Regions from separate parts of the Homo sapiens genome. Here all the other regions are linked to region 1. Evidence: fine-mapped expression QTL. A gene starts in region 1. Each other region holds a variant in brackets. All regions are shown on one strand. Distances are between the middles of the regions.

Region 1 (7,681 bases):
GCCAGAGCAGCCTGGGGAGAAGGAGTCTATTCAAGAAACCCAGGCCTCCCCTCCACAACCCAACCTGCAAAGGAGGCTCTGCAACACAGTGTGCTCAGCCTAACCACATCCAGCCATGTAGTCATTTGTTATCTTCATCATCATAATAGCACCTTCGACTTTTCCCATGCTTGACTCCAGCACCATCATTATTTTGCAGTGTGGCAAGGATGTCTCCCTTTGAGTATGGAGCACTTCCAGCAAACTCAGACAGAGGGGCCTATGCCATTTGGATTCTGATCCCCCCAGGAGAAGATCCTCCATGAAATGGATAGAGACTACACTTCTCCCTTACCCCTTCCAAGGCCCTGAGAGGGCATCCAGCAGTGTGCTCACATGGTGGCGTGGTTCTGTAACATGTACAAACACAGGATATTCTTGTATTCTTTTTCTTAATGCTCTCCCCGCAACAAACTGTATAAACATCGGACCTGAAAAAAACACCATGATCTGCTGCTGGATGCTGAATCGCACACTTAAATTTCATGAGGACCGCCACCTCCTGCAGTGCCAAGTGCAGTCACATACATTAGCTCCTTCAGCTCTTCTTGACTGATTAGCTTTATGGGGTAGGCTTTGTTCTTAAGACACTTTTACATTACAGAAATGGGGATTCAGAAAGGTTCTGTGACTCCCCTAGGGTCACCTGGGGTCCAGGAGGTAGCCTGAGAGTCAAACTCAAGCTCCTAAATCCAAGTCCAGTGTTCTTTCTACTATACCATCACTTCCTGGTTGTCCCGTTGAAGACTAAATAATAGGCCAGGCGTGGTGGCTCATGCCTGTAATCCCAGGAATTTGGGAGGCCAAGGTGGGAGGATTACTTAAGCTCTGGTGTTCAAGACCAGCTTGGGCAACATAGCAAGACCCCAACTCTACTAAAAATAATAATAATTTAAAAAAACAGCCGAGCGTGGTGGCAGGCACCTATACTTGGGAGGCTGAGGTGGGAGAATCGCTTGAGTCCAGGAGTTCAAGGCTGCAGTGAGCCATGATGGTACCACTGCACTCCAGCCTGAGTGACAGTGAGACCCTGTCTCAAAAACAAACAAAAACCAAAAAAAAAGCAGACAGAAAGAAACTCTAAAAATAAATAAATAAGCTACTCCTCTCATTCATCCGTTAACAAACCTCTCATAATGACCCCTACCGTTTACTGACTTCTTGCCATGTAGCAGGCACTGAGCTAGACTTTTCTTGCAAAATTTCATTTACATCACGCCATAATCCCATGAGATGAATACTATCATTAGTTTCACTCTACAGATGAGGAAACTGAAACTCAGAAAAGTTCAATAATTTGTCCAAGGGCACAAAGTAAGTAGGAAAGCCAAGACTTAAGCTGAGGGCTAATTCTAAACTCCCTGCACATAACCATGGCACAACATTCCAGTTGGAAGTGGTAAAAGGTCCCTAGCAGGATGGAGACAGGGCAAGAAAAATGCCTTGAACCTAAATTAGGAGTGTGACCTAAAGCCTAGAAGGAAGGAATGAAAAATATGGATTACAGAAGGTAAGTTTAGGTTTAAATGAACCAGTAATCGCCACGTCAACTGCTTCCCATGGGGCTTGGAGCCCGGGTCCCAAGCAGAAGCCTCATCTCTCTGAGGCCCTATTTAAAGATTCTGAGCATGGTACAGTATCTCCAAGGACCCCACATGATTTCTAACAAGCAAGAAAGGTGTCACCATCTACTGTAACTAAACATCCTAGCACATTGAGTTTTTCAGTTAGTCAAGGCTTCACAGAGCTTATTTTTTAACTCTCTAAGCTTTCCTGGTGCCGCTGATAAGATTTCCCAGCCCTGTTAAAACGAGATGAGATCCAGCCAGCTGTCGAGAAATGTACAATGAGATTATACTGAGAAGGAACCACGAGAGACAAAGGCCCCTAAGAGGAGCTGGTCTGCTGTCTGCTTTTGTGGCAGCAATCGGAGTGGGCTCTGGTTCTTGGGTGGGGGCAGGAAGCAGGGAAGGGGCAACCACCATTTGCCTTTTGCCCTCCTGTGGTCTTCCTCAGTGCCTTGTGCAAGAGGTGTTGAGGGGCAGGGAACAGAAGAGTCTCATCTTTCATGGTGAGAAGGGCTGCTGATTTAGAACAGTTGTGTGTTGGTAACAAAGAGGACAAAAGATGCTCTTGGGTCTACCCCGTTCCCTGGTGCCTGCCTCTGAGGATGTGATGTCCCCTGGTGCCATGCCTCAGCTCTTGTCCCAGCCCCTGCTCCTCCCGTCTCGCTGGTGTTGGAGTCACTGTAGGGTGCTCGACGTGCCCACCATGTTCCTGGATGGGTGCTCTGGGTCTCGGGTACCCAGGCTGGGCATGTCACCTTCCAGACAGGTGCCTGAGGGTTTAGGTGTCCTCTCTGCTGTGCCCAGGTCACAGAGGCAGTGATGCTCCTGGGGCAGGTGCACGTTGGTCTGCACCCACGTGACCAGAGAGAGCAGGACCCCAGGCCAGGCCGGTCAAACGATTGACTGTTCCCAGTCTGTGCCCAGGTGGGCCGCCTCCCTCTCACGCGGGCAGAGGTGGCTCTCGGCGCCCCTCACCTGCCCGGGCCTTGGGGGCGCTGCTGGCACTCGGGTCCCCCAGCTTCTCCCGCCTCTCGCCGCCAGGCCGAGCCCGGGCACCGGCAGCCGCGGCGCGCTCGGGGCTCTGCAAAGGCCGCCCGGGCCTGTCCCCGCCGCGGGCCGGGCACGGAGCCCGCAGGCCTCGGCGCGGCCCGGCTCCTCCCGTCCGCCCGCCCCTCGGCCGGGGGCCCGCGCCCGCCCGCCCGCCCTCCCGGCTGCAGGGCCGGCTCCGCCGAGCCTCCGCGGCGCCCGGGCCTCACTTAACTGTTCCCCGCTGGGGCGGCGGCGGCGGTGGCTGCGGCGGCGGCGGGTCCCGGCTCCGTCTCACGCAGAAGCAGCTTCTCATCGCCCGGGCGGCGCGGGAGGGGCCGGGCCCGGGGCCCAGGCGGCAGGAGCCGGCGCCGCAGCTCGAGCGCGAGCCTCACCGAGAGCGGCGGCGGCGGCGGCGGCGGCGGAGGGGCGGGGCGCGGCCTGGCGGCGGCGGCGACAACGGCAGTGGCGGCGGCGGCTCCCTCCGCGGGCCGCGGCGGCGGGCCGGGCTCCGGGCCTCCCGGCGCTGGCGCTGGTTCAGGATCGGGGGAGGCGCCCGGCGCCCGAGGCTGGCTCGGGCGGGAGGAGGGAGAGGGAGCCCTGGCGTCCCGAGCCCGCGCCGCCGCCCCGGCCGGCACCCCGCCTCCCCAGCCTCCCCCTCGACCCAGCCCGTCAGCCGCAGGCAGGGCCCCGGTGCGCCCACCCGGGCCTCCCCGAGCCCGCCGGCGACCCCAGTCCAGCCTCAGGCCCCCGGGAGCCCACGGCCTCTAGAGCCTGGGGCATCGATGGTCCCCGCCCCCAGGCTGGTCTTTTCCAGGGACCCTCAGCCCACTTAGCTCTCGTAGGCCTCGCTGTACGCAAGACCGGTCTTCCGCTCGGCTGCAGATCCCTGGAAGCCCCCAGGCCCTCAGGCTAGAAGTTGGACCCTTCTAAGGACTCTCCGCCCACCCAGCCATTCTAGGCTTCACTGAACCCTAGAATCCTTCAGCTCATCTTCCCCCACCCCCCAGCTCACCTAAGGTGAGCTCAGCCAGTCGTCTCAAACTAACCCCAATTGCCTAGCAATTCTCTTATATTAGTTAGATGATTTATCCCCAGAAGCCTAGAATCAGGTTTATGGGGCCAGCCTCAGGCAAGCATCTAGAAGAAGTTTTTAGCAGGAGTCCTACCCTGCAGTACTTGGGGAAGGCATAAGCCAAGGATAAAATGGAGCTGGATGGTTGGGGGAGGGTCCAGAGCTTGACCCTCAGCTAGAGTGGCTGGTAGGAAAGGCGGACTCTGCGCCTTAACCAACCATGCCCCCCACACCGCCCAGCCAGGCACCCCAGGCAGAGGCCAGCGTGTGCAAGATTTGAAAGGTTTCCTGCCAGGAGGCTGGAGCATTCGTTAGGACTTGAGGACCATGCAGGAGTGATCAGCATTGATTTGCTAATGCATTGAGTCTCATTTTCACACATTCTAGGCTTTTCCATAATAGCTGTTTGATCCTAAAGAGAAGGGTGCCAAGCAGAATGGGCTGTCGGGGGAAACATCCTGTAGGGAAGCCATGCACGTGTGCATTCCCAGTGTCTTCACTACTCAGAAATGCCATGGGTTCAGATGGCTTTACAGCAAGCCTTATCCTCCCATCAGGGCACAGATCATCCCTATGTTACTTAAACTGTTACACAGGAAAAAATAAACAAAAGAAACAAAAATTTTTATTTCATTTCCCAAGTTTAGCATAACCCTGATACCAAAATCCAACAGACAATACCAAAAAGAACTGCAGATGACTAACCTAGAACACGAGTCCCCAGAGAATTTAATATTTATTTTTTGAAAATGGGCTTCTGTGGGCAACTTGAGAAAGTGCTGCATGCCGTTTATAGTGTACCTTTTGGAGAATCACGATAAGTATTCGTATATTAAGGAAGGCCTCTGTGAAGTCCAGGAGTAAAGAAACCTGTTTGGTTTGTTTAACCTGGCATTTCCCAAACTCATCTGAGCCAGGACCACCTTCTAAAGCTCACTGATAAATCCTCAATATGTGAATCTGCACTATATATTTAAGTATATAATAGTCGTAAAACTATTAAATACAATTTTAGCCATTTGAATCCAGTTTACTATTAAAGCAACTGAAAACCCACCATGATCAAGCAAGATTTATTCCAGAGGCGCAAGAAAAATCCAACATTAGGGAATTTGTAAATGCATTGCATTGTTAAAGGAAAACAAATTACAGGATATTATCAATGGGATAGATGCTTTAAAAGTATTTTATAAACTTCAAAACTAATGACCCATAAATTTCTAAAAACTCTTAGTAAACTATTATAGGAAGAAAGTTTAAACTTTTAACATGACAAAGTTTATCAGAAGCCATCAACAAACATATTTAATGGTGAAACACTAAAGGTATTCTCATGTAAGTCAGTCAAAAGGATGCCTGCTATAATGGCTATAGAATAAAGCCAATGCAATAAGATAAGAAAAATAAATAAGAAATATAAATATTAGAAGGGAAGAGATAAAATTGTCATTATTTGCTTATGATTTAAGTGTTTCCCAAAAAGTAAAAATAAAAAAAATCAACTAAAAATCATAGAGACTTTGGTAAGGTGGTCAGTTATAAGATAAACACCAAAATCAATGGTTTTCCTAAATGTTAAGGGAGAAGCCTTCTCCTTCCTTCTTCTTCTTCTTCTTCTTCTTCTTATTATTATTATTATTATTATTATTATTATTCTTTTTTTTCTTCCTTACCCTGTCTTATGGTATTGAAGGGAGAAGCCTTCTTTTCCATATAGAGGGACTTCCATTAGAATAAGACTTCTGGCCTCTCTCCACTCTAAGGGAAGATGAGTGAGTTTGGAAAAAGTGGACAAGAATAGATGCTTCTGAGTTCTCTTTTTGGATTTGGCTGACTGCAGAGAGCAAATATTTCCATGCGCTCTCACTGTGGGTTAAGTGAACCTGTTTCAGGGACAGAGTGATACTATTCTCCTGCACCACCCGCCACTACACAAATAAATCTACTCAATTCAGGGAGAAATATAGCAAGCCCACTTAGCTACAGAGCAAAAGCTACTTTTTCCAGTCAGCTTCATTAAAAATTAAGGTAGTATTTTTGTCTTATGTCTCTTTCCTGTGTCTATGCCCCAGTTTGTTCCAAACTTAGAATAGGGAGGGAGGTATTACTTACAGAGACCTCCAAATACAACACTAAATACCAGTTATTTCCATTTAGGAAGTATGATGGAAAAAAAGCATATTCACATTAGCAATGAATACTATAAGGCATATACTAGGCATAAGCTTAACAAGAAATGTGAAGGTCCATGGAAAGAAAACTACAAACCTGACTGAGGGACATAAAAGAAGATCTTAATAGTCGGAAAAATATAACAAATCCCTGGGCAGGAAGTCTCAACAGTGCAAAGATGCTGTGTCTCCCCAACTCACTTTATAAATTTAGTAAAATTCAGATCAAGAAACCACTATGATCTGAGGGGTGAGGTGAGATGGAACATGATGAAATTATTTTAAAATTTACCTTGATTGGCGTGAGTGTGTTGGCTCATGCTGGTAATCCCAGTACTTTGGGAGGCCAAGGTGGGAGGATTGTTTGGGGCCAGGAGTTTGCGACTAGACTGGGCAACATAGTGAGACCCTGTCTCTAAAAAGATTTTTTAAATGAGCCAGGTATGGTGGTGTGTGCCTGTGGTCCCAGCTACTTGGGAGGCTGTGGTGGGAGGATTGCTGGAACCCAGGAATTTGAGGCTACAGTAGGCTATAATCACGCCACTGCACTCCAGCCTAGGCAACAGAGCAAGATCTTATCTCAGAAACAAACAAACAAACAACAACAAAAAAAAACTAACAAGAAACTTATCTTGATAAATAAGTATGAGGAAATACCCATGAAATTTTTGAAATGGAAGAATAATGAGAAAATATTGCTCTAACAAATATTACAATATAATGTAAAACTTCAGAAGAAACTATGGGCCACTAGTGTAAGAATATACACTTTTGTCATATATTAAGTTCCGTTTATAAATGCTTTGTTTTTATCCATTGATCTATTTGTGTGTATAGATATAGATATAGATGTAGATATAGTTTTTTTTTTACTTTAAGTTCTGGGATACATGTGCATAACATGAAGGCTTGCTACACAGGTATACATGTGCCATGGTGGTTCATGGCACACATCAACCCGTCCTCTAGGCTTTAAGCTCCGCTTGCGTTAGTCATTTATCCTAATGCTCTCCCTCCCCTTACCTCCCACACCCCAACAGGCCCCAGTGTGTGATGTTCCCCTCCCTGTGTCCATGTGTTCTCATTGTTCAACTCCCACTTATGAGTGAGAACATGTGGTGCTTGGTTTTCTGTTCCTGTGTTAGTTTGCTGAGAATGCGTATATTTTTAAATAACTATTCCTATAAAAATAGGTATATCCATTGTATATTATACATCTATTGTATATAATAGGAATATCCATTTTAATCTATTGAGCTATTTGTATATAGGTATACAAATAAGGCATACAAATTTGTATATTTCATACACCCTACTCCAAACCATATTTTCTGGCCTAGACCACTCTAGTAATTTCCTTACTGGTCTCCTGGCTTTGCCCTACCCAAACAATGGAAAGTAGCAACCAGAGCAATCATTAACAAATAATAATAGGCCAGGTATGGCGGCTCATGCCTATAATCCCAGCATTTGGAGAATGCTGAAGCAGGAAGATCGCTTGAGGCCAGGAGTTCAAGATCAATAAACATAGTGAGACTCCATCTCCACAAAAAATAATAAATTAGCCAGACATGGTGGTGTGAACCTGTAGTCCTAGTTACTTGGGAAGCTGAGGCAGGAGGATCACTTGAGCCCAGGAATTTGAGGCTATAGTGAGCTATGATTGTACCACTGCATTCCAGCCTGGATGGCAGAGAGACCCTGTCTCTAAAAAAATAAATAAATACTTTTTTAAAATAAAAAAATAATAATAAGTGCTGGGTGCAGTGGCTCACACCTGTAATCCTTGCATTTTGGGAGGC
Region 2 (5,000 bases), 110 kb before region 1:
ACAAGTCAGGCGTAAGAAACTGCTCTCTAACAAAGGATCTCAACCTTGGAGGAGAGTTCTGTATCATTCATTGTCTTACAGACAATTGTAAGACAAATCTGGGGAATCAAGAACCTTATTCTCTGGGATAGGTGATAAATATATTCCATCCAAACTCCAGGCTGCAGGATTGAAGATTTTTTTTTTTAAACATAAATGCATTTAGGACTATCACTGGCCATTAATAAAAAGAGGGAAAAAGCCATTCAGTATTCAGGGCACAAACACCAACTGTGTGACAGTAGTTGGATTCAGGTACTCTGTCCAAACAAGACAGGTGGCTTCGTTGTTCTAAAAAAGATCGGAATTTCTTTTGTCCTAATGTCAGCAGTTAAATGCATTCATTCTGACAAAAAAGGGGGACCCTCATACTGTGTAAGAGCTGAAAGATAAATCTCATCACCAAAGCTTGTGCGACTGTTCAACTTCTCCCCAAGTTCTGGCACCGCATGTATCCATCCTTAGCAGGCCATCGAGAGTTTACCCCAACTCGGAATCCAATGCCCTGCCACTACTGTCTTAACTCAGAGATGCTTGAGCTCGGCAATGCTGGCAGCTGGAGGACTCAGGGGGCTGGAAGCAGGCAGGAGTGGAAGCTGGGACTGGGAATGACTGGGTCACAGGTGAGGGTTATTCTGGAGCACTCACAGGGAATACTCACAAGGAATGCTCACGGGCTGCAATGGCTCAGTAATCTTGGGCTTGGGTTTAGGAGAAGTTGGCTCTTAGGAGGCCCAATCTAGAGAATGAAGCTTCCAAGCAGGAAAGGCAGGGCAGCACACAGGTGACTATCAGTTCAAACTAGAGCCCTGCCCATGGGCAGGGTACAGGGACTCACGGAACAGGAGAGCTAGAGTAGGGGAGAAGAACACTTGGGGGTCAGACCCAATAAGTGAAACGATGGGCTTGGGCTGCCCACCATCACTATAGGCTAAGAGAAGGCCACCACGAAGAGACATCCCAGTGCCAAGGGCTCCCCCAGACACAGGTTTATAGCAGCAAGGCTAGTGCAGCCCCCACTATGAAGGCAGAGGTTCTTTGATACCTGGTGTATCAAAGGGGATACCTGGTGTATCAGAGGGGATACCTGGTGTATCCCCTTTCCTGGCTGGGAAAGGATCTGAGAAGGGGCTGGGAGGGCAGGGCTGTGGATACCAACAATCACAGCAATACATCAATAGCACTTTCTGTGTCCCAGGCATGGTTCTAAGCTTCACCATAAGTCACCGTCACCCCCATTTTACAGGTAAGGAGACAAAGGCACAGAAGGGTTCAGTTCCTTGCCCAAGGTCATTTAACTTTAAGTAAGGAGGCCTTGGGCTCCCCACCTTCACTGTTTTGCCCAGCAAGAGTGATGGGAGCCACACCCCCTATTCCTTTTTTCCTTTGGATCCAGCATTGCCATCAGCCAAGTGTCAAAGGCCTCACTCTGATGAGGTCCCAGAGATGATCATCCAGGGGCCCACGTGAGAGTTTAAACAGTGCTGAGGCCCAGTACACCAAGTTAGTCCTAGCACGATTCACTCCAGGTCTGTGTGCCATTTCCAACCTTCAAGTTGATGAGGGGAGGGAAACGGTCACACGCAACCTGTGCTAAAGAAGCATCCTCAGTACCGTGGTTTCGAGCTCAATGTCTGCAGTCAAAGAGACCTGGGTCTGAATCTCAGCCCTGCCACGTACCACAGGTGTAACTGTGAGCTGATCACAAGCTCTCAAGACCTCAGTTTCCCCATCTGTAAAAGATTTTCTTGGTTAAGGATTTGTTGGGATTAAATAACATAATGCATGGCAAGTGCATATGCCATACCTTACACAGGGTAAGTAAGAGGAAGGCTGGGTATTATTCAGTAAATTCATTTAATTAATTTAATCCATTTTAATAATGCAAAAACAACTAAA[T/C]GTGTTTCAATGAAAGAAGTTGCCTTCATCATTTTCCCCTCTCAGCTGAGAGTTTATTATTTTGAGAGAGACAGAGGTAGAGAAAGAAACAAAAGGCTAATTTGGTATAAGCTGCCTCTAGGCAGGAGTGTCTGGTCACACTACTTCATTCACTCCAGAGTAAACCTCTGAAGAAGTGCTAAGAGCAGGTGAAGGGCTGGGCTCAAGGGGGTTCCCTTTGTTTTCAGCATTTCTCTGGCCAGGTCTACAATTATGCTGTCTCTAAGGAAGGGAATTATCAGGGGGAAATGGGCATATTTCTGCTGAAAAACTAGACAAAGAAGATAAACATACAGGGAGAAAGGTATCAGAAAGTTGGTTTTTCTGTGTTCATGTGTTTAGGAACGTTACAGTCAAGGCAGTGTTTGGACAGAATGTCTGTGAAGTCCAGGGGCAGTAAATGCACATTTGCTGGCCACTGCGAGGCCTGGGGCATCTCAAGCTGCAGAATATACAAGCCTCCTTCCCACATAGCTTTAAGTCCTGGGAGGTGGGCATTACCACCTCCACCTTAAACACCAGACAATGCCTGGTGCACAGGAAGCGTCCCATAAGAATGAGCCGACCTATTGCTATGTTCAAATGATCGATATTGTTACTGCAATTGCTGATATGGAGAGATGTGGAATTTAGATCCAGAAAGGCTAGGATCTCTGCTGGCCTCACTCGGCTAGTCGGTGGGAGAGACAGGGCCTGCACCCAGCTGTTTGGGCTCCCACCCTGCTTCATCCAGCTGCCCTCGGCTGCCTGGACCACAGATTTAACCCTTTTCCAAGTTAAGAAGGGGATGTGGCCCATTAAACCAGTGCCGCCTAAGCTCTGCCATGCTTAAAAACCAAAAAGAGAAGGAAAGCACAGTGGGAAGGTGGCCGCCTGTTTAAGAGCACTGAGGTATCTGTCACCTAGTAATATTTTTATTTTTCATGATGACTTAACTGGAAAAAGTCTTAACTTCTTCCTACCCATGGGGCACAGGAAAAGCAGAAATGAAAGCCTAGAGCAGAAATCAGCCCCCCAGGCACTTTTCCTCCAAAAAACCAAAGGTACATTGAAAGATTTTATAGAAGTTGCAGCCTCACGCTGCCAAGCACTTCTCTCCTTCCTGCCCCCAAGCCATCATTCTGTCACCTTCTTGAGAAAGGGATCGTGGGCTGCTTGCCACGGAAAATAGCCCACTTCTAAGTGGTGATGCGTGACAGAATGTCTCGGCTTCCAGGGGGTACTGAGCTGAGCCATGCCAGAGAGCCTTTTATTGCAAGTTTCTCTGGACTGAGGAAGAAATTTCCTCTGAGCACTCTGAGAAGTAATCTTATATATCAAAATTATATAAGGAAGCACACGGCTAAGAAGATGAAGACCGTGCTGGGCCCAAGCCAGCGTGTCCCATGTGATAATTCTCAACAAGTCTTTGGGCTCTTTCTTGGATCACATCCCTGTAGGGGAGCTGAATAAGGAGAGAAGTGACATTCCTACACTGCTTCCTGGTTTATGAAATGTTCTTACCTACCCTAGATCTTCACAACAATCCAGGAAGGAAACGGGCATTACTGCATTGTTTTAAAGGTATGGATACTAGCATTGCCCAAAGTAGCATTGTGCAGGGTCCTTGTACAGTTCTAGAGGATGCTAGTCACATATTTTGTGCAGTGCACAACCTTGGCAACTGCTCACAGCAGCACTGTATGATGGCCAGTATGTGTCAGAGCCAAGATTCTGACCCTATGCTTCCAACCCCAAATGCCCTATCAGGGCAGCAGGCTTGCCCTCAGGAGCACAGGACAGGGCAGCTCTCGGTGACTGTTGAGTGAATGGAGTGAACAATCTTGCTCTTGTCTTTGCCTTTGTTTACCTACATCCTCCTCAATTAAAAAAAAAAAAAGAGGGGAGCCTCCATTCTCTCTAAATATGGTCTCTGCCCTCTCACTCAAGGTGCTCACAGGTGAAAACTCTCCAACAGAGTAGTGTGGGGTAAACCAGGAGAGAGCATCAGCAGCGGGAGAGGAATCAGAAAAGCCTGATGGAGAGGCAGCTTGGGAGTGGCCTTCAGAGCCACAGCCAGGGACAGAGAGAAGAGAAGGTGGTGAAATCTGAGCTGCTGGAGTGGCGGGGCAAGCATAGCGCAAGACAAAGGCAAGGAGGACGCAGGGAGCGACCCAGGCTGGTGGGACACGGGTGGGGCTGGTTGTTGACAGCCCCAACACCAGGCAGGTGAGGTCTGAGGTCTGAATGAATGCAGTCAGGCTGTGGAGGGGCACAAAGGTGTGATCTGAGGAGCAAGGGGACCAAGGAGGTCTTTGGAGAGATGAGTCAGCTACCTGGGCAACTGGGCTGAGGCTAGAAAAGCCTGGTCAAGGAAGAGAGTCAAGTAAGGGCTGGGCACCAAAGCCTGATACCTGCCAGACTGCAGCCCAGAAGGCCCGGGCCCACGGCCTTCTGTGGGCCCTGCATTCTAAGTGAGAATGCAGGTGTGCGAAGAGAGGTCCCACGCTTAACACTCAGCTGCAGAGGACCTGCTGGGGAACTGATCCTGACCATGGACTTCATCTGGAGTAAGATGACCCAGAGCCCAGCTCAGGGTTCTCAGGGTCTATCTCTCTGTGAAGTCCAGGAGGAGGCACTCGCACTGCAGAAAACCTCCAGGAGGCAGGAGTTCCCCAAGTGCCCTGTGTGTCTGCCTGCACACGCTGTTCATTAACTTCAGTGACACAGCCACCGTGGTGGATGTAGAAAAGCACATCCAATTAGCCAGGCCTACATGAATATTTGCACTCTTAAATCTTTTGCATTTCGAAAGGGTTAAAGCTTATTATTAGCATATAATTTACAGTCCTTTCTCCCAGGAAAGGAATAATGCACAGTAAATGCCACATTCATTTTAATAATACATGTTACAGTCTGTGCCCAACATCTGCACAAAGGTAAAGGAGACAGATTTTTTTGACATGTCCCACTCTGCCATCTAAACACAGGCTTTTTGTTTCTTAAGTGACGGAAGGTTTAATCAAGAAAGCAGGCAATTCATC
Region 3 (5,000 bases), 24 kb before region 1:
CAGCCTTTTAATACTATAAATCTGGACTACGAAAATTGAGAAAGATGGCTCCGCAGCATTTTGAGTCTTCCATACTTTAAGGAGTAACTAGCAAGTATTTTACAAGCACACAATAGCATACTTCCTGCCTATATATATAATATTAAGGCTGAAACATAAATGTTTTGGAAAGATTTATGACAGGCTTAGAAATAAACAGATTCTCTGGCTAACTCTGAATTAACATAAAATTAAAGCAAGCCAGTACTTCCACTTCCAGGAATATGGAGTAAATATACTTTTCCCTAATCTTCCCAGTAAGTACAACTAAAAAAACTGGAAATTATACCAAACAAACACCAGAAGACTCTGAAAGGTGAAATAATCCGTCTGACCAGCTAGGGATCTCATGACCCAGGGAACAACATGGTGGTGAGTTCTGTGGTTTTCTTTCTGCCTCATATATCCCAGACTTGAAGCTAAAGAAATCAGCAACCCAGAAACAGCAGTAAACACAAACCAAAAACCAAAGAAACAAACAAACAAAAACAACAGAAGCCTGCTTTCTCTAGTCAGGGGGCAGCCTAGCAAGAGGGAAGATGTTTAGACAATAATTGCTCTACCCCAGCCAAATGCCACATAAAATACTGTGGCCCCACACCCACCCATGCCAACAAAGCCAGAGTAAGGATCCCAGACTTCCACATCTAAACATCTAAAAAATAATTAATACTAATTCTACACTGTCTCTTCCAGAAAACAGAAGAGGATGGAACACTTTCCAATTCATTTTATGAATCTAGTATTACCAAGCCAGACAGACAGTATACAAAAAGAAAACTACAGATCAATATCCCTCATAAATACAAACACAACATTTTTTTCTTTCTTTTTCAGACATCTGTAACAGCCAAAAAAAATTCTTAACAATCTGTTATCAAAGAGAATTCAGCAATAAATAGAAAGAATTATATACCATGACCAAGTGAAATTTATTCCAGGGATGCAAGGCTGGTTTAATATTCAAAAACCAATCTATTTAATCCACCATGTTAACAAGCTTTAAAGGAAAAAAAAAATCACATGATCATATTAATTGATACAGGAAAGGCATCTGACAAAATTCCATACCTATTCATGATAAAAACTCTCAGAAAAACAGGAATGGAAAGGAACTCCCTCAACTTGATAAACAGTACCTACCAAAACACCTTCAGCTAATATTATACTTAAGAGTGAAAGACTGGGGCCAGGCACGGTGGCTCAAGCCTGTAATCCCAGCACTTTGGGAGGCCAAGGCAGGTGGATCACAAGGTCAGGACTTTGAGAACAGCCTGGCCAACATGGTGAAACCCCATCTCTACTAAAAGTACAAAAATTAGCTGGGCATGGTGGCACATGCCTGTTAATCGCAGCTACTTTGGGGGCTGAGGCAGGAGAACTGCTTGAACCCAGAAAGTGCAGGTTGCAGTGAGCTGAGATCGCACCACTGCACTCCAGTTTAGGCAGCAAAGCAAGACTCAGTCTCAAAAAAAAAAAAAAAAAAAAAAAGAGTGAAAGACTGAATGTTTTCCACCTATGATCAGCAATAAGGCAAGAAGGTCTACTCTCTCACAGGTAACATAGTGCTAGATGTTCTATCCTTTGCAATAAGGCAAGAAAAAGAAATAAAAGGCATACAGATGGGAAAGAAAAAAGGATGAGATTGTTGTCCAGGTGGAAAATCACAAGGAATCATAAGAAAAAAACAAAACCAAAAACCTAGAACTAATAGTGAGTGCAGCAAGGTCACAGGATGTAAGATAAACCTATAAAAATTAACTGAATTTCTATATAACAGCAATGAACATGTGAACATCAAAATTAAAAGTACAATTCCATTTATAATTGCTCAAAATCTAAAAATAAATATTTAGGCTCAAATCTACCAAAACATTATAGAGCT[T/C]GTTTGCTGAAAACTACAAAACGCTGGCGAAAGAAATGAAAGAAGAACTAATAAATGAAGAGACATACTATGTTCATGAATTGGAATACTCAACATAGTGGGGATGTGAATCCTCCTCAAATTGATATGCAGATTTAACATCAATTGCCATTAAAACCCCAACAAGTTTTTTGTAGATATAGGCAAGATTATTTTAAGATTATATGGACAAATAACTGGAATAGCTAAAATCATTTTGGAAAGGAGAATAAAGTAGAAGGAATCATTCTACCTGCTATAGTTTGAACGTCCCCTCAAAAAATCCTGTGGATACTTAATCCCCATTGTAGCAGTATTGAGAGGTGGGGCCTTTAAGAGGTGATTGGATCATGAGGGCTCATTCATTGGATTAATGGATTGATTGGTTATCATGGGAGCAGAACTGGTGGCTTTATAAAAAGAGGAAGAGATCTGAGCTAGCATGTTAGCACTCTGAGTCTCCTCGCCATGAGATGACCTGCACTGTTTTGGGACTCTGCTGAATCTTCACCAAGCAAGAAGGCCCTCACCAGATGTGCCTCTTGAACTTGGACTTCCCAGCCTCCAGAAATTAAGGAAAAAATGGATCACAGACGTAAGTGTTAATGTAAAACTATAAAAGTTGTAGGAGAAAACAGGAGATAATCTTCAGGATCTAGAGCTAGGCAGAGAGTTCTCAGACTTGACACCAAAACATGATTCACAGATAGAAAAAGTAATAAATTGGACTTCATCAAAATTAAAAACATTTGCTCTGTGAAAGGCCCTGTTAAGATGAAAAGGCAGGTAAAGACTAGGAGAAATATTTGGAAACCACATATCCAACAAAGGACTCATAGCTAGAATACACAAAGAGCTCTTAAAACTCAACAGTAAAAAAAACAAACAATCCAATGAGAAAATGAGTAAAGGGCATGAAGAAATTTTCATGGAAGACATACAGATGGCAAATAAGCACATGAAAAGATGTTCAACATCATTCATTAACCACTAGGGAAATACAGTGTGAAACCAAATGAATTATCACTATGCACGTGTCAGAATGGCTAAAACAAAAAAATACTGACGATAACAAATGCTGGAAAAGATGTCGAGAAACTGGATCCTCATATATTCATTACAGCTACACCAAAAAGTAGTTTAACATTTTATTTAAAAACTAAACATGCAACTACCATGTGACCCAGCAAATGCATTCCTGGATATTTATCCCAGAGGAATAAAAACACAGCCACATGAAAGCCTTCACCTGAGTATTTATAGCAACTTTATTCATAATGGCTCCAGAATGAAAACAACCAAGATGTCCTTCAATGGGTAAATGGTTAAACAAATTGTGGGATATCCAAACCATGGAATACTATTTATCAGTAAAAAGAAATAAACTATTAACCCACACAATAGACTCTCTGCATGAATCTCAGGAGAATTATGCTGAGTTTTTTTTAAAAGCCAATTCCAAAAGGTGACATACTATAATTCCGTTTATATAAGATTCTTCAAATGCCAGAATTATAGAAATGGAGAACAGATTAGTGGCTATCAAGGGTTAAGGAGAAGGTGGTAGTATAAGGGAAGTGAGTGTAGCTATAAAACGACAACATGAAAGATCCTTATGGTGATAGAAATTGTATTTTGGCAGGTTTTTTCTATATTTTATGAGGCTTTGATATCCTGAGGTCTTGCAGAAGCAGGGAGGGACTGCCCCTCCTAGGTGAATGACTTGCTTGTGTGCATGCCTTGGATATGCAAACCAACCAATACTGAGTTCTTATCTCCATCTGCCTGCTTTCACGGGCTCTTGCAGTCCAGGACACGATTCCCCTGCCCTAAATCACCCCAGGGCCAGGTACCTGACAATGAGGGACTCACCCATGTACCCCAGGACCTGCCAAAATTATTCAAACTTAATCAATCCTAACTGTGCTCACCCTGCTTGACACTGCCCTTCCTGGCTCGTTTCTCCCTGGCTCTCTGTGCTTCCTGACACACCCCACGCTTCCCCACCTATGTTTCCCCACCTGTGCTTCCCCAGGTGGCCCTACAGGGTGTGGCCTGTCTGCTCCTCTTGGGAACTGCGAGTAATAATCTTTCCAGTGGCAATCCTCTCCTCATTTATTGGCCACATCATATATGAATAAAAACAAAAACCTGGGCACGTTTTAAAACAGAAATGTTCTGTATTAATGTACTGTATTAATGTCAGTATCCTGGTTGTAACATTGTACTAGTCTGCAAGACTTTACCATTGGTGGGGGGTAAACAGGATCTCTCTGTAGTACTTCCTACAACTGCATGTGAGTCTACCATTGTCTCAAAATAAAAAGTTTAACTGAAAAAAAAGAAAGAAAAATTAAAGCAAGCGCCTCGTCTTTTTTCAACCATCCAATTAATTGACGTTTCATTATTAGAAGGCTTTTTAAATAGGGAATTAGGAAGTTTTAGCAAACAGAAGGAAGTACCAGAACACTGCCTGTTCCCTACCACTTTCCAAATGAATCAACTACGGAACAAGTCATTAGCGGGAACTTTGGGTCAAAACGAAAAATTCATGGTTAGCAGGGAAGGGAAGCCTAGAAGAAAACAAGACCAGCTCCTCTGCAACCAGGTGCTTTAAGCCACTATTTCTAAGAGGATCACCTAACGATAGCTGATGTTTGCCTCCTGCACACCTCGTGGATGCCAGCACTGTGCTAAGTGTGCCACGTGCATTCTCTCAGACCACAGCTCTGCTCCCTTGGGGCCAGGGTGCGGCAGGACAAAGGGGAATGTGGAGGGAAGGACCTTAAAAGAGGTTTGCTAATCCAGGCCACAGGGAACAAAGGCCCAGGGCTAGTTACAAAAACCACTTTCCGCATTTCAGTAAATCTCAGCTTAATGTATTTTCTAACAAAACAAAAAGGAGGAACACCTGGTGCCTTTTATCAAAACAAGCTCTGGTTTTGAAAATAAACCAATCTGTGTGGCAGGACTCAAAGTCTGTGGTTATTTCTGCAGTTAGTAGCCCCACGATAGCAAAGCCCTGTGCTCAGGAAGCTGGGACAGCAAGAACAAGCTG
Region 4 (5,000 bases), 130 kb before region 1:
CCAGCTCGCAGGGTCTTACTGGGAGCTGTGGGTCTTACTGGGGAGAGAGCTGAAGCCCGCTCACCTTTAAGGGGCCTAGAAATAGGGTTTTGGCCCAGGTAGCCCTGCCAGGACGTGGTTCAAGATCCTTCCTGGAATCGCCATCATGGTGCATGCTCGCTCATCCCCGGAGTGGCTGCCCTGCGCACCCACAGGCTCACAGGAGGGAAGGGAAGAAAGGGCTGCCCAGTATTCCTATCAGTGGAGTCTGGTGGAGAGCGGCACGTGCATCTCTGTGGTGTGTTGTTACCATGTGTCAAAGCATTTAAAGAACATTGATTAAGGAAGCATTTTCCTGGCTGGTTAAAAAAAAAAAAACTCAATTATGGTCATCGACCCCTACCAGAAGGCTATTCACTGTATTACGTGGCATGCACATTATGCAGTGCTTAACAAAAGTAAAATGAAAAAGAAGAGGAAAACATTCACTTCCATCTCACTTATTTAGTTGGGTCTTTATGGGGCTAAAGCCATGCAGGGGTTAAAAAATGCAAGGTCCATACCCCTGGCCACTGCAAATGTATCCTGATGCTTGAATAGGGCACTCCTTTGGCTAAGACCAGGGGCCACCTTTCTACTCGCCCAGCCCCAGGCCACCTGGGTGTCCCGCTTACTGAGCCCGAGGCTCAATGGGATTAGCTGCAGAGTGGTAAACAATGCCTACACAGGAAACATTTCTTCCCATTAACAAAAAAATCAATTCTGCCCCACTAGGCTCTAGCTGAACACAAATGAATTAGGGGGATGAAGGAAAGAGGCTGGAACAACACACTATTGGTGGTTGTGAGCTGGTGCAGCATTTAGGAGAACAAAGTGGAGGCACGGTGGGACCCTGGTGGGTCAGGGCAGCAAGGGGCAGGGTGAACACATTTTAACAGCCAAACTTCTCCTTTCACACATGTGTAAAACCTTTGGAATTCCATCAGAAAAAACTTTATTTCAAAACTGATCTTTGAAGTTTGAAAATAAAAGAAGAAAGCCTATTTCTCAGTACAGAAAGCAGGTTTTAAAATGCTGAAGGGACCAAAGGGAGGTGCTAGCAGGTGGTGGTGGCACTGACTCTGAGGTCCATGCCTCTCCTGTCTCCCGGTGCTCTCTGCTTTACCGCGTCTGTTTCTCACTTAGACTTTCCCTGATGGGACACCAGACTTCCATCTTGCCTCTCTCATTGTCTTTTGCCCTGTTGGGGCCTGGTGAGCCCTTGTCCCAGCCCTGGAAGGTAATCTGGATGGTATCCTTGATGATCCAGAGAGGAGGGGAGGCCACCTGTGTATATGTCATGTGTGCACACATGTGAGCATGCACACGTGTCATGTGTGCACATATGCATGTGAGGCTGTGTGTCACATGCAAGACCATGCACACGGTATGTATGTACACGTGAGAGTGTGCCACACGTGAGTGTATGCATGTGCCACGTAACGCATGTGAGATTGTGTCCATGTACGAGTTATGCACATGTGAGAAGGGGCATAGTGAGAAGAAAGAAACCGCAAGAGCCTCATGGGCAAGCAGAGGCTGAGCCTGTGTAATGAACACCTCTTCCAGGAAGCAGCCGGTGATACACAGGCCACTGCTGTTGGCAACGGATTCCTCTACAGCCCACACAGGCAGAAAGAAGTCACTAGGACCTCCAACCTCAGGTATGAAAACAAAACTCCATACTTGAGAAGGGAGAAGGGGCAAACAGCAACACTCCTGAGCTCTGGGAGTCCCTTCTGCCCAGCCAGGCCCTGGTCTGCTCCGGGTGCTCAGCTGCTTCCCTGCTTGCAGCTGGACCTTTCACCCCTCCCCTGCTTGCTCACCCAGTTGACAAGTTCATGTGTCCTTGACAATGCACTGGGGTGGGTGGGGATGCTCACGGGGAGGTGGCACGTCTGTGGGGTTTTCTGGCAAAAATAGATGCTCACTAAAAACCCGCTGAACTTGAAGAAATAGGGATTTTATCTTTCTCACATATTTCACAGCTGACAAAGCACTTTCAGCAAGTCTTCTCTTAATTAGTCTTTACCACAATCCCGGGAGGCAGGCATTTTCAGCCCCTCTTGATAGAAGACTGACTTGAAGCTCAAAGAAGGTGAGGGGCTTGTCTCGGGGGCAGAGCTGGGACTTGAGTCCAGAGCTTTTAAAAATTAAACCTCATTGTCCTACAGCCACTATTCCCCACCCTGTATTAGCAGGTCACTTATTTCTGAGAAAGAACTAGACTGCAATTTGCAGAAATGGCTGGAAAATAAAGGGCCATGAAGTGCCTAAGCATTTCATTTATTTTTTCTTTCTGGCATCAGTTAGCAATTACCCTTGAACTTCCCTTCCTTCCCTGCTTCCTAAGACATCCCAATTACTTCAGCCAAAAAACTCACCCAAACTCCCAAATCACCCCCACCCCCAACACCCAAACATCCAGGTCAGCAAGATCAAAGGCATGGGGGAAATGGGCTCTGACAACTCTTTCTTTCCTCTGCCGGGTTCACACACTTTTCTCACTTACTAACTGAGAACAGAGAGGCTGAACAGCTGCCTTGTTATTTCCAGCAACATTTGGGATAGAACCAATTTCCAGTCTGGCCAAACGACCTGAGGCCCTGCTGAATGTGTTGCACCGGCTGCCCCCAAATCACCAAATGGACAGCGCTCTAACAGGGAACACATTTCCCCAGCTCCCAGGCAAC[C/T]CCGTGGGCCCGCAGGGTCTGCACACGTCTGGAGCTGAGTCCCCAGTGCTGGTCCGAGCTGAGGAGGGAAAGCCTACCAGGCTCCAAGGCAGGGCCATGTCTTCTTTACCTTTTGTGTCCCAGATTCAAGTAGAATGACCAGCAAGTAGTTGGGGCTCAGGGCTGGCTGAATGGCCTCCACGTGAACACCAGGAATTAGGCTGGGTCTATTGTTTAAAATGCACATTCTCCCTGGGAGCCCTGGTTGCGCGTGCCTGCACGTGAGCACACGCATGAGCTGAAGGCACGGACTCACATTCTTCCTTTTTTCATCTCCTAGGGAAAAAGTAGGTGCATCTGCTGGTGCCTGACACAAGGATCCCCTGCCTCCGACATGCACAGGAGCTGCTGGGAATGGGGTTGATGGTACGGTTCAACTTGCACATAACTGGTGAGCGGGGCTAAGGAATGAAACAGTGGGACTTTCATAACCACCAAGCCCGCGGCATTCCAGGTGTCCTCAATCAGACAACCTGCATGAAATTTACACAGAGACTCGGCAAACAGCTTGGGATCAGTCACACGGCTAACCTAATCTGCTCTTCATATTCCACCTGGCTTTTCATTGCTTACCTGTGACCAGAGGCTGTGGGTTCAGGGGCATCTTTAAAGCTAAATCAGAAAGATAAATAAACCCCCTCCAGATGACATGAGTCCCGGGCACCCACCCAGGACCCTTGTGCCTCCTCTCTTCCTGCTTCTGGAAGGTAGTGGGAGGGTCGTGTCCCACCACGGAGTTCCTGCAGTGCCTCATCCCTCTGTCCAGCTTTTTGGCCCCCCTGTCCCGGTGGGTTTGAACTCCTACTGCTTTGGGAGCTGGGGATAGGGAGATGCAGCCTTGACCATTCCCCTGGGCTTGAATCCAGTTCTCACAGAGCCTTGCTGTCTCTGGTCTCCAGGGTTCCTGCTCAGAGCCTGGATGGGCTGCAGCTCTTGGGATCATTTGCTCGAGACCCTCTACTAAGTACCCCTGACCTGTCCCTGACACCCTCCTCCACCTGGAGGTGCAGCAAAAGGCCTAGGCCTTTGAGAGAGTCCCCTCTGCACTGCTTCCCAGCCATTCTCTACAGTGGTGAGCACCTACCGTGGGCAGGGCCATTTTGCAAGCTTTATTTCATTTCATCTTCACTGCAATTCTTGAATGAGGCTTTTCATGCCTCCATTTTTGTTTCTACAGTCAAAGACGCTGAGGCCCAGATGGTGAAGGGCCTGACTCCCTATGGCAGTGGTGGTGTGAAAGGCAAGGCTGGGAATACTCAGCCTGCCAAGCCTCTTCCTCCTCCTCTGACCCCTGCTCTTCTGGTGATGCAGAGATGCCACCTAGGGTGGAGTACGTGACCTTGCTGTCCAGCACAGCCCCAAACACAGCCACTCACCGCAGAGCCCAGTCACCATGGGAGAAAGGCCAAACAGTGCCGCTTCCCTCCCTTAATGTGTCCCCTTTTGGGCTGGGTGGCACAGCTGGTCTGCACCTGCAGGGCTGAAGGACATCCCTGGGATACAGGGTGTCATTCCTCCTGCTTGATCTGCCTCCCAAAACCCAGCCCTGAGCAGGCAGCAAGTGCCCTTTCAGCCTCCGCTGCACCAGCCTGAGCCGGAATCCCAGCTCTCATTAGCTGTGTGATTGGGCAAGTTGACTGAGCTCTCTATGCCTTGGTTTCTGCATCTATTAACTGGGATTAATTATATCGACACCTCTTTGGGTTGCTATGAGACTTGAAGAGAGTTTGGGTGAAGCACTCTATAAATGCTAGGTAAGTGAGTGTTATTAATTTCCCAAACGTGAGAAAATGACCAACATCTGTTCTGGCACCCCTCCATCTCTATGCCCTCCCCACCAGCCCTATCAAATGCAGTTTCCTGTAAATAATCCTCACATGGGGATGGAGCAGGGCCGGGGAGGGAGTACATCCCTGGTCCACAAGGCTGCTGTGACATGACAAATAAGCTGCAGGCTGACAATGTCTCCAAGACATATTGGAGTTTACTTTGTCATTTGGGCTTGCCATCTGTGTCACCCCAATGGGGGCTAGCTTCCCAGGCTGCTCTGGGAGCAGGCGGTAAGAGTCCACTAGTCCCCGGACAGATCTGGAAGCTCAGCCGGCCATCCATTAGGCTGACTAATGAGAGGAAGTGGAGCTTGCCCACCGCCCACCTGGGAGCCAGACCTTCCTTCCCAGGGAGGGCCAGGGGCTCTGCTCTGCACAGTGCAGGGAGCAGCAGGACTCATCACCTGATGGGCCCTCCCAG

What was found.
Region 2: its variant is fine-mapped to the expression of MVB12B in whole blood (INTERVAL, PIP 0.97).
Region 3: its variant is fine-mapped to the expression of MVB12B in whole blood (TOPMed, PIP 0.94).
Region 4: its variant is fine-mapped to the expression of MVB12B in T cells (TOPMed, PIP above 0.99).

Annotation. Positions count from the first base shown.
Region 1 is chr9:126,322,198-126,329,878 of GRCh38, reverse strand. It overlaps MVB12B (multivesicular body subunit 12B), which reads right to left and starts at 3,050. Exons shown (of 10, transcript NM_033446.3): 1 at 2,869-3,050. The coding sequence starts at 2,949. RefSeq lists an enhancer at 1,833-2,484 and a silencer at 2,926-3,065.
Region 2 is chr9:126,429,433-126,434,432 of GRCh38, reverse strand. All of the region lies in intron 7 of MVB12B (multivesicular body subunit 12B), which reads right to left. Among named protein-coding and RNA genes, the nearest start is that of NRON, 21 kb to the right of the region's middle. The variant T/C (reference allele first, on the strand shown) is at 1,939.
Region 3 is chr9:126,348,014-126,353,013 of GRCh38, reverse strand. The region is part of intron 2 of MVB12B (multivesicular body subunit 12B); the gene reads right to left. Among named protein-coding and RNA genes, the nearest start is that of MVB12B, 24 kb to the right of the region's middle. The variant T/C (reference allele first, on the strand shown) is at 1,925.
Region 4 is chr9:126,450,146-126,455,145 of GRCh38, reverse strand. The region is part of intron 7 of MVB12B (multivesicular body subunit 12B); the gene reads right to left. Among named protein-coding and RNA genes, the nearest start is that of NRON, 42 kb to the right of the region's middle. RefSeq lists an enhancer at 2,807-3,308. The variant C/T (reference allele first, on the strand shown) is at 2,712.